2 separate regions of the Homo sapiens genome follow, and region 2 is linked to region 1. The links come from fine-mapping of genetic effects on gene expression. Tissue or cell type: cerebral cortex. Region 1 holds a variant in brackets; the other region holds the start of a gene. All regions are shown on one strand. Distances are between the middles of the regions.

The links. PIP is the estimated chance that this variant, and not a neighbour inherited with it, causes the effect.
Region 2: SNAI1 starts here. The variant in region 1 is fine-mapped to the expression of SNAI1 in cerebral cortex (GTEx, PIP 0.96).

What each region holds. Positions count from the first base shown.
Region 1 is chr20:50,385,816-50,393,916 of GRCh38, reverse strand. LOC124904928 (a long non-coding RNA gene) reads left to right here and starts at 6,247. Exons shown (of 2, transcript XR_007067641.1): 1 at 6,247-6,493; 2 at 7,390-8,101. The variant C/T (reference allele first, on the strand shown) is at 3,521.
Region 2 is chr20:49,978,568-49,986,668 of GRCh38, reverse strand. It overlaps SNAI1 (snail family transcriptional repressor 1), which reads right to left and starts at 3,689. Exons shown (of 3, transcript NM_005985.4): 1 at 3,528-3,689; 2 at 2,318-2,845. The coding sequence starts at 3,609. RefSeq lists silencers at 3,675-4,194, 7,256-7,355, 7,456-7,515 and an enhancer at 4,347-5,284.

The DNA.
Region 1 (8,101 bases):
CGCGATCTCAACTCACTGCAACCTCCGCCTCCCAGGTGCAAGTGATTCCTGAGTAGCTGGGATTACAGGCGCCCACTGCCACGCCCGGCTAATTTTGTATTTTTAGTAGAGACAGGGTTTCGCCATGTTGGCCAGGCTGATCTCGAACTCGTGACCTCAGGTGATCCGCCTGCCTCGGCCTCCCAAAGTGCTGGGATTACAGGCGTGAGCCACCACACCCGGCCTGTCTCCACCATCTTAAGTACAGTGGAGGGGTCTGCATTTTTTCTGGAAACCAGGTGTCCGGCAGAGAGTGGGCACTGCTGGAAACTGTTTTGCAAAATAAACACACTTGTGGGTACAAACTGTGTACCAGGAGGAGCCACGACCCTCAGATCTCTCGGGTCCAGGATTGTACCCAGGACAGGCAGTGTATGGAGGGGAGGCCATGATCACTGAGTCTCTGGCCACTCCCTGGGGCCCTGAGTGTTATTCCCTGGTCTGCTCATATATACAGGCAGCACGGCCCCATGGTTAGCATCCAGGCTCCAAGACCCAACCACGTGGGTTCAAATCCCAGCTAGCTACCAGCCTGCCAGGGGATCCTGGGCAAGTGACTTAATCTTTTGGGCCTCAGTTTACCTATCAGAAAAATAGGGCAAGTGATAGGATTGTCGTGAGCATTAAGTGAATTTTCGAAGTTATTATTTATTTATTTTAGAAACAGAGTCTCACTCTGTCACCCCGGTTGGAGTGCAGTGGCTTGATCATAGCTCACTGCAGCCTCCCAACTCCTGAGCTCAAGCGATCTGCCTGCCTTAGCCCACTGAATAGCTGGGACTACAGGTGCACACCACCATGCCTGGCTAATTTTTAATTTTTTTGGAGAGATGAGGTCTCACTCTGTTGCCCAGTCAGGTCTCAAACTCCTAGCCTTAGGCGATCTTTCTACCTCAGCCTCCCAAGGTGCTGGAATTACAGGCAAGAGCCACTGCATCTGGCCTAAATAATTTTTTGTGTGTGTTTTTTTGAGTCTGGGTCTCACTCACTCTGTCACCCAGGCTGGAGTGCAGTGGTGATATCTCAGCTCACTGCAGCCTCAACCTCCAGGGCTCAAGCAATCCTTTCCATCTCTGCCTCCTGAGTAGCTGGGACTATAGGTACATGCCACCACACATGGCAAATTTTTTATTTTTTGTAGGGATTGGGGGTCTTGCTATGTTGCCCAGGCTGGTCTTGAACTCCTGGCCTCAAGCGATTCTCCCACCTTGCCTCCTAAAGCACTGGGATGAGTGTGAGCCACTGCACCTGGCCTAAATGAGTTTAATACGTAGTTAATATCTGGCTCTTGCCAAGTGCTTCATCAGTGCTAGTGGACATTATTGTTTTAATCATTACTGTTATTATTATTAGGGAAGGCAGATTGTGTAGGATCCTAAGTAGGAAGTTTCGTCTTTATCTTGGGCAGCAGTGGGCAGATTCAAAAGCCTGCTCTGAGTTGGTTTCAGTGACAGTGAGAGAAGTGAGAGGAAGTAAGAGGGCGATGCTAACCATGGTGGCGTCTAGCGCGTGAGCTGTCAGGGCTCTGCCCCACACCTTACCTGTGCCATCGACTTCACCCCCACACACAGCCCCCACCTAACAGAAGTCTCTGCTCACCCCCTTTTCAGACGGGAAAACCCAGGCTCAGTACTATGTCACCTGCCCCAGGGCATATAGCCAGGGAGTGGCCAAGCCTGGGTTCAAACCCTGGGATGTTTCCTATTGCTGCTGTAACAGATTACACCAAACTGAAAATGACACACTTTCATGACCTTACTGTTCTGAAAGTCAGAAAGCCAAAGTGGGTCTTACGAGGGGAAAATCAAGGTGCAGGCAGTATGGAGTTCCTTCTGGAGGCTTCAGGGGAGAATCCATGCCTTGTCTTGAGGCCAATGGCACTCACTGGCTTGCACCGCTCCCACCTCTGCTCCCACTGGAGTCGAAGTGGGCCCTCTGGGCCTGACCCTCCCGCCTCCCTCTCATAAGGCCCCTGGTGACTGCCTTGGGTCCACTGGATAAGCCAGGCTCATCTTCCCATCTCAAGACCCTGAATTGAATCACACCTACAAAGTCCCTTTGCCATGTAAGGTCACATGTTCACAGGCTCTGGGGATTAGGAGGTGGGCACCTTTGGGGGGTCATTATTCTGTCTACTGGACACCTAGAGTTTGGCTCCAATCCTGCCTTTTTGGCTTTCCCTGGGAGTGCCCGGGCTGAGGGTGAACGGAGGAGGCACCGCACGGTGGCGGGGGAGCGAGTGGCCTGGTCTCCGGGCAGGCCTGGGCCTTTATGTAAGGAGGCTGTAAGCCTGGGAGAGTAGGCCCAGGGTTGAGTGAGGACCACCAGGTCAGAGCGAGGGGAGTGAAGAGGCCTAGGACGAAGCTCCTGCTGACCAGAGCCAGAAAAAAGCAGGCCTGGTGGCCAGAGAGGCCGACTTTCCGAAAGAAGCTGGAAATTCTGGGTTTTATACGAAATCGCCAATTTTTAAATGTTGGCAAATGATTCAAAATGATGAAGGAAACCCATGCAGTGCAGGTTATACAAAACCACACAGTGCAGGTCATAACGGAACTCGTCTGAAGCCAGACGAGGCCTGCAGGTGGCAAGCTGGTGGCCTTCAGCCTACCAGGGAGAGAGGGGAAGGCCAGTCCCTGCAGAGGTCAGTGAGCGTCTGGAACACTCGTGGAAGGAGGAGCTCCTTCCACCTGAGGAGCTCCTTGTGCCTGCTCTGCTGGGTGGGGGAAGCCTGGGCAGGGTGTGTTCAGGTGGGGGACAGCAGGCTTCCCCGAGGGGAAGGCCCAGAGCAAGTAGGGGTGCAGACCAGGCTCAGCTCAGCCCCAGTTCCAGCTCTGCCTTCAGGCAGGCAGGGGGCTGTGAGGCCTCGGGCAAGTTACCTGGCCTCTCTGGGCCTCCCTTTGCTCTCAGTGGAGGTTGACTCCACAGAGTATCCAGGCTCATGCATTCATTGAACAAATACTTGCTCTATGCCAGGCCCTGGGGACTTGCGAATGTGCGAAGCAGAGCGAGGCCCTGCCTCCAGGGTAGGTGGACGGGGCGTGGATGTGGAATTGAGCCTGGACTTCCTAAGAAAGGAGTCAAGAGCAGTCAGTTCTTTCCCTGCTGACAACCGCTTCCACAGCCTCATCCTGGAAGTAGCTGTGGTTTGTGACTTTTGTTCATTCATTGAGCACCAGCAGAATGCCATGTGTTCTATCCTCAAAACCTACAGGGTTGGTGTTATTATGGCCTCATTTTACAGGTGGAGAAACTGAGGCCAGGCACACAGGTCACACAGCCAGGAGGAGGCAGGGGTGGGAGGGACCCCTCACCTCTGCCTCTTCTCCCAGGCCCTCTGCCTTAGCTCTGAGCTATTTAGCAGAGGTCCTGGGGAAGCTCTTAGAGCCATCAGCTAGGGCCTACCTGGGGGGAATGTGGAAGGAATGTCTTCTGTGTATGCTAAACTTTGTCCTGAATTTACCTCCTGTCAACTTCAAGCAGA[C/T]CCGGTGCCTGACCTTGGCCACTGCATGGCCCTTGGTGCCTTTAGAGATTTCAAACTGATCCTCTTTCATCTTTCCGGACATGAGGCCTGAGCATTTTTTTTTTTTTGTCTCTCCTCCTGAGGCCATCCTGGGACTCCCTAAGCCATTTTATAATCACAGTGTCCAAGCACAAGCACCTGCTATGTATGCGCCAGGCACCCGATGGGCACAACCTCAGTTAACCTTTAACAATCCCATGAGCCCAGTGCCAGGGCTGATGAGAAACTGAAGTTCGACAGGGCCGAGTCACTTGCCCAAAGTCACACAACCATAAACGAATGGGTTCAAAGCTATACCATTACCCACCGTGCCACACGGCTTCTCTCCACCAACCACTGGGGGGTGGGAGGGGTGGTTCTGCTCTGCGCCGAGAACTTCACCAGCCTTCTGCTTAATTCATTGCCAAGACAAATCCCTGAGCATTTTGTTTTCCTGCAAGTCCCCAGTGTGGGGGCTTCTTCCTGGGATGGGGGACTGGGTTTCTAATGTATTCGGAAGCCGCTTTCTAAGACCCTTTTCTTGTCTCCAAACCCGCCCAATTGTTTTGTGTGGGGTTCCACAGTGGGGAAGTTCTCTCCATCTTTTCTCCCATGGTTGGGAAGGCGAGAAGGGCATTAACGGTGCATGCTGACAGTAGGGTGCAGGGGAGGGCTTTGGCGTCCTGGATTCCAAATGCCAAGGGAAGGCCTGGTCAGGAGGGTGGAGTTGCCCAGTTAGAACTTGGCTGGTTCTTATCAGCTCTGGAGCTCTGTGCCGGGCAGGCGCTGGAATCAAAGGAGGCCAGGCCTGTTTATTTACTTTCTCCCCTCCTTTTTGGCAAAAGGAGATCAAAGGTAAAAGCAAATGCTCCGCTCTGCACCCCTCCTCCCTTCGTTTCTTCCTTTTTCTTTCCTCCCTTAGAAGCCTGAGAACTAAAAGCCGTAGATGTAAAGGGAGGGTTTTGTCATCACCACTGTTTCCCTGGCACCGACACTGCACTGGGCCCCGGGCTAAGAATTTTGCAGAATGGCACAAATCTCTGCAACTAACATGATGTGTGACAGCTCTTATTATCCCCATGTGGCAGAGGAGGAAACTGAGGCACTGAGCGGGGAAGTCGCTCTTCACAGGTTGCTCAAGCCTCTCTAGCTTCTAGCTCCATGCTCTTTTTCTTTCTTTCTTTTTTCTTTTTTAGAGGCAGGGTCTCGCTCTGTCACCCAGGCTGGTCTTGAACTCCTGGCCTCAGGCATTCCTCCCACCTTAGCCTTCCAAAGCATTGGAATTGCAGGCCTGAGCCACCGCGCCCGGCCCAGGTGGACCAACTTAATCATGCTCTTAATCATGCCTGAAGCCACATCCCTCCTCTAAATACACATTTCCACTATGCAAAATGAGAACAGTACAAAGGTGGCTAACAGCAGAAATCCAACTTCAAAGGTTCCCTGAGTCCTTCTGTTGTGTAGTGAGTTCAGAGGCTACGAACACCCAAGCAAGACACACAGATGATTGAAGGCAGTCAGGTGGGATGCAGTAGGGAATGGTGGAGACTGTGGTGAAGTGGAGAGTCCCCGAGATGCAACTCAGCATCAATCCATTGCTGCCTTGCAAAAATAAGGGCCCAGTGTGGTCGGGACTTTTGGACAAGCCAGGTGTTTTATGTGAACTCCCTGGATTTGTAGTAGAAGATGGGAGTCCATTTTTGTTTTTTGCTGATAGTGGGCTCGGCTGGGGTCCTGGATTAAATATTCCATTTTCCCAGTGAGTTGAAATATTATCTTTGTCCTGATCCTTCTCATTGTTCTTTCATTTTGTACTTTTTTCTTTGTGAACTCAAAGATTGTTTTATCCAACTAAAAAAACCTTGTGGGTCGCTACTTTAAATTGCATTAAGTTTTATGTATGTTGGCAGAATGGTCATCTTAAGGATGTGAAATCTTCCCATCCAATTATTCTCATCTTATTTGGTGCCCTTTGGGAGGATTTTCAAAGTTTTCTTCCAAAATATCTTGATTTTTAAAATAATGCCAAAATTCCAAGCTGTTTGAACTGCATGGGCCAAGCAACATCTCCTGGGGGCTGTGTTTGGCCCAGGGGATCCCTGTTGCTCCCTGAGATTCAGGGCAGCCTCACCCCATGGGGGAGACTGAACACGCTGTCATTCAAAGATAACCCTGTCCCAGGCGGGAAGATCTCCAGCGCCAGAGAACTGGGGGCAGACTGGGCTGGGAAACTCTGGGATGTTCGCTGCTTGACCCACTCTGTGGGAAGCCAGTGTGCCCACTTCCTTCACACTCAGCCAGATAAGCCCGCCGAGGCTGTGCCTTCCTGCTGAGGCTCCTGCCAGCTCATTTTTGACCAGCACTTAAAACAACAATTAAAAACAACTCATATGGTGTGCTTTGCTTTTGAAAAAGCAAAGCAATTTTTTCACTTTGTATTTTTATTTTTGAGACAAGGTCTAGCTGTCACCAAGGCTGGAGTGCAGTGGCATGATTACGGCTCACTGCAGCCTCGACCTCTTGGGTTCAAGCAGTCCTCCCACTTCAGCCTCCGGAGTAGCTGGAACTACAGGCAGGTATCACCACGCCCTGCTAATACTTTAATTTTTTTTTTTTTATAGAGATAGGGTCTCACTATGTTGCCCAGATGGGTGTTGAACTCCTAGACTCAAGCGATCCTCCCGCCTCATCCACCCAAAGTGCTGGGATTACAGGTGTGAGCCACCTTGCCCAGTGTGCAAAGTACATTTTTTAAAAATAAGAAAACACCTTCCGTTGGTCCAGGAATATGTATTGAGATCCACTAGTGCCAGGCACTGGGCAAGGCTCTGGGGACGGGGTGAAGTTCCTGCTTTCCTGGGTCTGAAGCTCTAGCGGGGAACACAGGCGATAAGCCCAGAAACAGATGAAAAAATACGGCGCATTCCAGCGACGGTCAGGGCAGAAAGAGATAAGGTGAGTGGAATAAGAGGGACCGGAGGGCCACCTTAGGCAAGAGCTTGGGGACGACCTCTCAGCAGAGGTGACATTTTGCCGAGACGGGAATGACGAGAAGGAGACAGCGGTGGGACTCCTGTCTCAATGGTCACTCTGATACTCAGGAAAGCACTGTGGCTTTTGGGCATTTAACCGGCCAAACTTTTTTGCCTAATTATATTTTTATATTTTGTTATTTATTTATTTAATTTATATATTACATGTTTGCATTTTCTAAAAACCAAAAGTAGCCATGCAGTGTTTTATAACTGCCTATTTTTCCTACTTGAAGCCTCAGTTTCCCCATGTGTCAACTGGAGATGTTCTCAGTAGCCACCCCACGTGAAGGCAAAACACAGGCCGATGTGAGGATTTGCTAAGGAAATGACCTATGGAACACAATTGATCCAAAGATGAGCAATTATTGGTATATTTTTATTATCATTTTATTATTATTTTTATGAGTCCCAAGAGGTGGAGATTGGCATTTCCATTTTGCAGGTGAGATTTTTCAGCCTCAGAGAGTCACACATCAAAGGCTGAGATGCGAGCAGTTGGACAGAGGGCAGGACGGCATTCCTCTGACCCCCCAGCCTGAATACAGTGAAACCTCAGCCAGATAGAGCCCCTTTTTCTTGGGAGAGGAAGTCGAGGCTGAAACCAGCTGCTTCTTTTTGGTCGTTTTTTTCCCTTTCTGCGATGTTTGTTTTTGTGAACATCGTACTTATCTGATGTCACAGGTTTTGGGAACCTAAACCACAGACATAAATACATTGTGTTGTGCTTTGAAGGATTGTGCAGCGAGATAAGTGAGTTTGGTGATGGGGGGATACAGCGTGCATGGACGCAGGGCTTTTTTTTTTTTTTTTTTGCAGAACTAAGAACGTCAATGTTTGTTCTCGGGTTCAAAGAAGTCAGCGTCTTTGGCGGGAGCTGGGCCACCATCGCCCGGACCACGCTGGGGTGCTAAGTGCTCACATCCTCCCCAGCACTGTCCTCAACAGCCAAGAGGCAGGCACAGGGGAAAACCCACCAGCAACACCAGCACCACAGCGTCCACACCCGCCGAGGATGCTGCACAAAAGGCCCATGGACCAGGGTGCCTGGGGGCAGGGCATGCTGGGCACCGTCCATCTTCTGGCAGCTTCTGGTTAACCCGAAAATCCTGTTTGGTTTTCCTGTGTCTTTTGAGAATGTCACTCAAACCCCTGAATCCTCTCTGTGATCTAAGTGTCATGAGGCCTGCAAAACCTCGCTTCCTGCAGCAGACTTCTCCGCTTCCTGGCCCCCATGAAGACTGTTATCCACAAGTAGCCAGAGGGATTCTGTAAAAATCAAAGTCAGGGCAGGGCCCTCCTCTGCTCAAAACCCTCCCATGGCTCCCTACTTCACTCAGGGAGGAAGCCACGCCCATATTGTAGCCTCTTCCACCTCTCACACTCATTGCACAGGCGGCCACCAAGCCCCTTTCTACCCCAGTGCCTTTGCACTTGCCACCCCCTTACTTCATTGCAATCCCTTCTTAGCAGAGAGGCTGACCCTGAATTCCCTCCTGAAATAGTGACCCTTCTCAAATAAGTCTCCCCT
Region 2 (8,101 bases), 410 kb after region 1:
ATAAAGCAAGACCCTGTCTATAATTTTTTTTTTAATCTACTGAGCTCCTACTAAGTGCTAGACACTATTCCATAATACTGAATAGTCTTTTTAAAAAACATGCAATTCTCCAATCCCCTCACGCCCAGTCTGATATGCCCGCAAGGTCAGGGCCCGCCTGTGAAATCCCAGCGCTGGATGGAATTTAAGAGCTGAGAGTGAATTCATTCCATCACCTCCTGGGTGCCTAGGGTGCCACACTGAGCTACCAGGGTAGGAGAGAGTCCAGAGGATGGCTCCAATGGGACCCATGCATTCAATAGGGACTTATGGAGCGCCTGAGAGCTGGACTCAGTCTCATGGGGCAGAAATGGAAACTCGCCACTCCAAAGGGTGGGGGACATAGAGGATTGGGGGAGGGGTGCCTGAGCACTACTCCACTCTGCCATTACTCAGCAGCCTCCACACGCCACGCCTGAAGGGTTTGTTGATTGCATTCTAAGTCTTCATGTGAATGAGAAGGGTAAGTTCACCCTTGTGAACTAAGGGCTGACTCTGGAGATCTGGAAAAGGGGCTGGAGTCCATTTGTAAGACCAGAGTTAGGACAGCACCTCCCTTCCCTTCCCAGGGCTGTTGGTGAAGTCCTGAGCACTACCCTCCTGTACAGTAAGTGCCCAAAGTGTGATGAGACCTGAACCCAAACAAAAGGGGAAGGAGACATTCTAGGACATGATGGGCTGGGGGCGGGGGCTGTGTGCACACGCAGGAGGCACAGACCCCCACTCCTTGGATCCCTCGCCCCCCAGACGCCTTCATGGTACTCCTGGCAAGTGTGAAATCGGCACCAGGCCGGCGGGGACAAAGGGCGCCGAGGGGGGCACTGTACATGCGATATCCCCGGATTAAAGGGGCCTGCCATGCAGTGGGCCAGCAGCTGTGACTGGAACAGGTGCTGGGCACCGCTGCCCCATGCACCTGCTCCACCCCTCCCAGCCCCCACCCACTGGGCCCACCATTAAGGCACACAATGGGAGTCAATGAGGACCGCAATGATACATTTCAAGGGGATTTCTGTGTCTCAGCCATGCCTTTACATTAAAATAATGTCCAGATGGGAGGTGAGAGAGGCAGGCAGGACTGCAGCACCCTGAGGGGTTCAACTGTCCCAAAATAGAGCCCTGTGAGCTGGGCAGGCACCCAGGAGGCCAGGCAGTTGGACCTTTACATGTTAAAATCAGAGCAATTGGTGCACGAAGGAAGAGAAATGGGTAGCCTTAGTCGAATAAGATGCCAATAAAGCCCGCGAATTGCCAGTCCTCCCAGACACCTCACTAACCCTCACCGCTCAGAGGTCAGGCGCCAGGCCAGGAAATGGCAGAACCTGGCCAGCTTGAACCCTGTGGAATCTTCTCCCTCAACTGTCACTCTCCAAAGAGCAGCTCCAGGCACAGTGGCTGCCACCATTCAAGTTCTAAAAAGTTCTACCTTTTCTCCATGTCCAGAAAGTTTTTTACACATTTAGTAAATTTTCAAAAGACGTGATTGTGTTTTCTGCCCCAAAGATGCCGTTTCCTGGTCTGTGTGCTAGGATTCAGTGGGGGTGGGGAAGCCGACCTGAGAACCGTTCGGGTATAATAAATTACTATAAAGTGATTAGCCACCTTTACAGCCACTCTCTAAAACATATGCTATCATAGTTTTCCCCTAAGGCTCAGAGAGGTTAAGTTGCTTGCCCAAAGTCACACAGCAAGGAAGCAGAGCAAATGCCAAGGAACCATTTTTGTGAGAGTTTAGCAGGTACCGGCACTTTGCCAGGTGCTTCCCATATGCATTCCTGCATTTAGCCTGTATAGAAACCCCAAAAGCTGTTCTCATGCCCATCTGAAAGATAGAGAAAATGAGGCTCACAGAAGAGAAACATCAGCCTAAGTTTTGAGAAAGTTCTCAAAGAAGGATTCAGAGCCAGGCGGGGGGTCTGACAACATCCTGTCTGGCTAGGGAGGGGGCGGACCCGGGAGAGGGTGTGGCCGGGTGGGCCCCTTCACACCTGGCCCCCACAGCAAGGTGTTGGTTGCACCTTTCCCATATCCAGCTCCGACCCATTTGGCTGAGAAACAGGCTGCAGGGGATTGGGAAGGTGTCTGCTTTGCCCATCTGCTTAGCTGATGAAGAAAGTTTCTGCCAAACGTTTCCAGAGAGCCAGGCCCTGGAACTTGAGCTAGAAGTTAGAAGACTCGGGGCCTCAGTGTCCACAGCTTTGGGAATGAGAACAGCAAGCCCAGATTCACAAAAGCTGCCAGAGAGAGCAACGGTGGGGGCGCCTGGAGGGGCACGTACCAGTGTGGGTCCGGACATGGCCTTGTAGCAGCCAGGGCCTAGAGAAGGCCTTCCCGCAGGTTCCGCAGACGCAGGGCAGCGTGTGGCTTCGGATGTGCATCTTGAGGGCACCCAGGCTGAGGTATTCCTTGTTGCAGTATTTGCAGTTGAAGGCCTTTCGAGCCTGGAGATCCTTGGCCTCAGAGAGCTGGGCCAGCTGCTTGGGCACTTGGCCCAAGCCTGGGAAGGCAGCATAGGCCTCGGCCTCCAAGGAAGAGACTGAAGTAGAGGAGAAGGACGAAGGAGCCGGTGAGGGTGGGCTGGGGGGCTGGGAGCCTTTCCCACTGTCCTCATCTGACAGGGAGGTCAGCTCTGCCACCCTGGGACTCTCCTGGAGCCGAAGGGAGGCCCAGGCAATTGGCTGGGCTTGGGGCGCCAGGACAGAGTCCCAGATGAGCATTGGCAGCGAGGCGGTGGGGTTGAGGATCTCCGGAGGTGGGATGGCTGCCAGCAGGTGGGCCTGGTCGTAGGGCTGCTGGAAGGTAAACTCTGAGGGAGAAAAAGCAGAGTCAGGCGTTAATTAAATCATTCACTCAATCAACAAACATGAGCCCACCGCTGGCCAGGGGCTGGGTGGGGCCGATTCTCAATACATAATTAGATCAAAAAAATTATCCACAGGACAGACCAGGTTCCTGCCCTCCTCGCCCAGGTCACCCAATCTGAGTCTCTCACACGTAGGACCCCCAGTTGAAGGAGGTCATTTCCTGATCTCCCTCTCCTAAGTCCCCAGTCTCCAGCCTGAGGCCAGAACCCCATCATCCCAGCCCCGGAGCCACCACCCTGCCCCAATCCCCCTCCTCACACACATCTCGTCTCCCCACCCCTCCCCTCAACCCTCTGGACTCCGGACTCTCCCCAGCAGCGTCCAGAGGGCCCTCCTGACACAGGCCTCCTCTCCTTCCCCTCTTGCGGAGCTCCTCCGCCTCTCGCCGGCTACAAAGGCCCCCCAAGCTGAAGACCCCTGCCCTCTACACGGCACTCCCCCAACCACCCAGACAGATCCCCGGAACTGGGGACCCACTTGCCCGGTCTCCCGAGCCCGCAATGGTCCACAAAACATCCTGTGACTCGATCCTGGCTCAGGCAGGCCGCCTCCCTCAGGTGCCCCCCACGCAGCCTTCGCCTGTCTCCCCCAAACCTCCTGGAGCCCAGAACCCCTCCAACGCACCTGGATTAGAGTCCTGCAGCTCGCTGTAGTTAGGCTTCCGATTGGGGTCGGAGGGCTTCCTGACGAGGAAAGAGCGCGGCATAGTGGTCGAGGCACTGGGGTCGCCGATTCGCGCAGCAGTAGCGCAGAAGAACCACTCGCTAGGCCGTGCCGCGGCGCAATGAATGCAGCAGCGCCGCCAACTCCCTTAAGTACTCCGGGGGGGTGGTGGGGGGTGGGAGGGGCGGGGCCTTATCTGCCACGCCCCTTTGTCACCTCCGCGCCAATCGGAGGCTCGTCTCCGCCGAAGGCCACTCCCCGAGCAGGTGCGCCGGCTGCTGGCCGGGCTCGCGCCGCGTGGCGGTGAGAGCCCGGGCGGGGACTCCTCCGAGGCGGGGTTCGCTGGCGCAGCGCGGGTCGTCCCCGGTGCTGGGGCTGTCCGGGGCGGGACGTCGAGCGAAGCGAGGCCTCTGCGAGGTGGGACCCCGGCAGGACGCCGCGCGCCCACCGGCTCAGCGCCCGGTGGTCTGAGCGCTTCTGACGCCCCCTGGCGCTGCGCGCCGGCCGGGACACCTGACCTTCCGACGCCCGCCCCCGCCTCGGGCTTGGGAGGGGGCGGAAATTTCCTCCGCCCGGCTGGCGCCTGGAGAGCGTGGCATTGACGAGGGAAACGCACATCACTGGGGAGGAAGCGAGGAAAGGGACACCGCACGTGGCTCTCGGCGGCTTGAAATGCCACGGCCTTTTTGCAAAGCAGCCTGGCCCAGCTAGCCAAGAGCACCCGTTCCTTCCCTTATCCAGTGTTTACGGAGCGCCCAGCACGTGTGGGGCACTGTACCTGGGGCCAGGGCACAGCCCCGGACAGAACACTCAGAGCCTCTCCCGAAGGGTAGCTTCTGGTCCAGTGAGGGAGACAGACGAAGTAAACAGATAATTACAATGCAAAGGGAAGTGTGCTTTGGTGGGGGAGAGACGGGACGCGGCGACCGTTAAGAGGCGGGTCACCTGACAGGGGGTCGGGGTGACTTCCCAGAGGAAGTGAAGAATTATCAAGGGAAAAGGCCCGAGGGAAGAAGTGGCAACTGCTTCAGAGTAACTCCTAGAGAGCAGCTTCCAGGGATGGGGTGGGATGGGCATGCCCGGAGGGGTCAGATGTGCTGGGCCCCAGGGCCTCGTAGGAGTTTGGACTTTGCCTCAAGGGCACTGGGGAGCCACCGAAGGATTTTCAGCTGAGGAGGGACCTGGTTAGAGTTTCGTTGAAAAAGATCCCTGTAGGCTGGCGGGAGAAAGAAGGCATGGGCCGGGCGTGTCTCCTCACCCCGTGAAGATCCTCGATCCTGTGTCTAAAGGCTGTAACACGGCTCCATAGGGGCCCTGACTGAATGCATGTGGGGTGGGCCCAAGTGAGGGGCAGCTGCACCCCCACCCCAGCTTCCCTGGGAGGCGTACCAGGCCCGGGGGTGGCTCTGAAATAAACCTCACAGGTCTCACCGTTCTTGTTTCCACCTGTGAAGGAAGACTATAAAAACCTATAAGCACCCCACACCACCACCACCACCAACCTGAAGGGCAGAACTACTGTCTGTTTAGTCACTTGGTGCCGGGTGTGACAGCCGTGAACAAAATCGTCCTCCCCTGGTTCTAGCTGGAGAGCGGGCAGTAGGGTGGGGGACAGAGGCAGTAAGCAGTCATTAAGCGGAATACTCCCCGTCCCGTGTCAATTTAGCTCCAATCAGGATCCTTTGCTTGAAGCCAAAGTGAGGCCAGATCACCCCCTCCTCTGCTCAAACCCTCCCATGCGCCTGTCTCAGAGTAAAAGCCAAAGTCCTCTCCTCAGCCAACTCGGCCCCGCTGCTCTGACCCCAGCTGACATTGGCTTGAGCCTCTCTCCCTCCCCCATGCACAAGGATCCCACCCCCAGCCTTCCTTCTGTTCCTCCAACATCCCAGACCTTTCCCACCTTGGCACCTGCTGCTCTTCCTCCTCTCCCCTACGTCTCTTGCTCCTAGATCTTCACGCTGGCTTCCTTTCATTCTTTGTTTCAGCAGCAACTTCACTAACTGCTCAGCCTCGTTTAGTGAAGAGAGAAATGGCAAATTCAAGCCACAGTGAGCTGCCATTTCACGCCCATCAGAAGGACAACAAGGAAAAATTTGGTCACTATCAAGAGTTGATGAGGAGGTGAGAGCTGGCGAGAGGGTCGGTGGGCATAGTCACTTTGGAAAAGTTTGGCATCAGCTAGCAACAGGTGACTCCTCTCCCTGTCTGTCCTCAAGCCAACTGCATCCCAGGGGCTGCAGCTGACAAGTCTGTCCTCAAACCAACTGCATCCCAGGGGTTCTCAGCTCTGGCAGCACATTAGATCCCCACAGGGAAGGATTAAAACACCTAAGCCTCGGCCCACCCCACCCCCACCCACATCTTGATTTAATTAGTCTGGGTGGGGCCTCTGGCATCAGCATTTTAAAAAACTCCCCTGGGGATTATAATGAGCAACCAAGCAAAGTAAAGAACTGTTGTCCAGCCCAAACCCCGAAAAAACAAAAAAGGATATTCATTGTACCCTCGTTCCTAATAGCAAAAAAAGCAAAAACTAAAACAAAACTGGATACAACACAAATGTTTATAAACAGTAGACTGGATTAATGAACCCTGGTGCAATCCTGTAATAGAATACTATACAGCAATAAAAATGAACTACAACTCCATGCAGCAACAGGGATGAATCTCAAAAACACAATGTCGAGCAGAGGTCACAAACAAATGCATAGTTATTTGGATTTATACGAGGTTCTGAAGCAGGCAAATGAAACCCTATATTATTTAGGGATGTATGTGGGGGTTGTAGAATTAGAAAGAAAAGCAAGGAAGTGGTTTTTTGTTTTGTTTTTGAGACGGGGTCTTGCTCTGTCACCCAGGCTGGAGTGCAGTGGCACAATCACGGCTCACTGCCGCCTGGAACTCCTGAGCTCAGCCTGCCAAAGTGCTGGGATTACAGGGGTGAGCCACTATGCCGGCTGCAAGGAGATGTTTGATACAAAATTCTGAAGAGTGGCTGGTGAGGAGGGGAGGCAAGAACAGGCTGCACATGAAGCTTCTAGAATTTTGGTAATGATCTGTTTCCTAGGCAGGGAGGGATCTTTATTGTTAGTCTTTCTACTGTACATGGACTATTTATTTTACCGTATCTTCATGACATGGTAGTGTACAGAGACAATTTAAACACTTTTAGGTATGAATAATATATTTAACACAAAAAATGTAAGTCACTTCCTCAGGGGAGCCTTCCCTGATCACCCTAGCCAAAGTAGGACCCACCCTTGCCCCAGCACCCACCTTCTTTTTTCTTTTTTTCCCCCTTTTTTCACTGAGACGCGCTACCATGCCTGGCTAATTTATTTTTTGTAGAAATGGGGTCCCACTATGTTGCCCAGGCTGGTCTCAAACTCTGCGGCTCAATTGATCCTCCCACTTTAGCCTCCCAACTTGGTGGGATTACAGGAGTGAGCCACCGCGCCCAGCCCACCTTTCTCTCTCATTGTCTTATTCTGTTTTCTTCAAAGCACATAATGGGGGCTCAATCAAGTACTTGCAGGCAGCCACTGCCTGGGCCTCCCGCTTTCCACTTTCCTTCAGTGGTCAGGCACCTGCGCGGGGCATGGGGGTGGGAGGCAACGCAGAGGGGAGGGGCCTTGCTCAGATCGGATCGAATTGTCCCCGCCACCCCCTCCAGGCCCGCCCTCGCTCCACTCCCTCCTGCAGGCGGCGGAGACCACGAGGTGAGAGGAGGCTTCGGGCCAGGCCTCTCGGCCGCAGACCCAGCTCCCTTTGCAGGGGAAGGTGAGGTGACACTTTTGATACTGTGGGGTCAGGTCCTCCCGGAAATGGGCGACATCTGCGGCCCAGGTGGCCTGGGACCCGGCAGGGCCAGGCCCTCCCCAGCTCCCCGCACGAGGGGGTCCCGCCCCAGGCCTGGGGCGCGGTCCTCTGGCGCCCTCTGCTGGCCAAGGCGCCTCCCTGCAATCGTCGCGGGGTGCAGGGGGCACGTGCTTTTCAGGGAGGTGAAGGCTGGTATAACTGCCGGGAGGGCAATCTGGGAATACCTAGTGTGCTCACGAAAGGCTTCTGGAAGGAAGGTACATTTGAATAGACACCTGCATTTTCTGCAGGTGCCAATCTCCCACTAGAAGTAAAACCAGTAGCTAAATAATGTGATTTACAGTTACCCAACTAAAAGAAGAGTCTCCCTCCATTCCAGACCTCCTTTTCCCTCCCCAAAGCAACCTTTTTTTTTTTTTAAACCAGTGTCTTGTATGACCTTCCAGGGATGGCCTATGTATATATTAATATGTGCATGGGCAGTGCGTGGTGGCTCACACCTGTAATCCCAGAGCTTTGGGAGGTCAAGGTGGGAGGATCGCTTGAGCCCAGAAGTTTGAGACAAGCCCGGGCAATATAGCAAGACCCTGTCTCAAAAAAACAAAACAAAACAAAACAAAAAATAGGCAGGTTACATGCCTGTTGTCCCAGCTACTCGGGAGGCTGAGGTGGGAGGATCACTTGAGCCTGGGAGGTAGAGGCGTCCATGAGCCAAG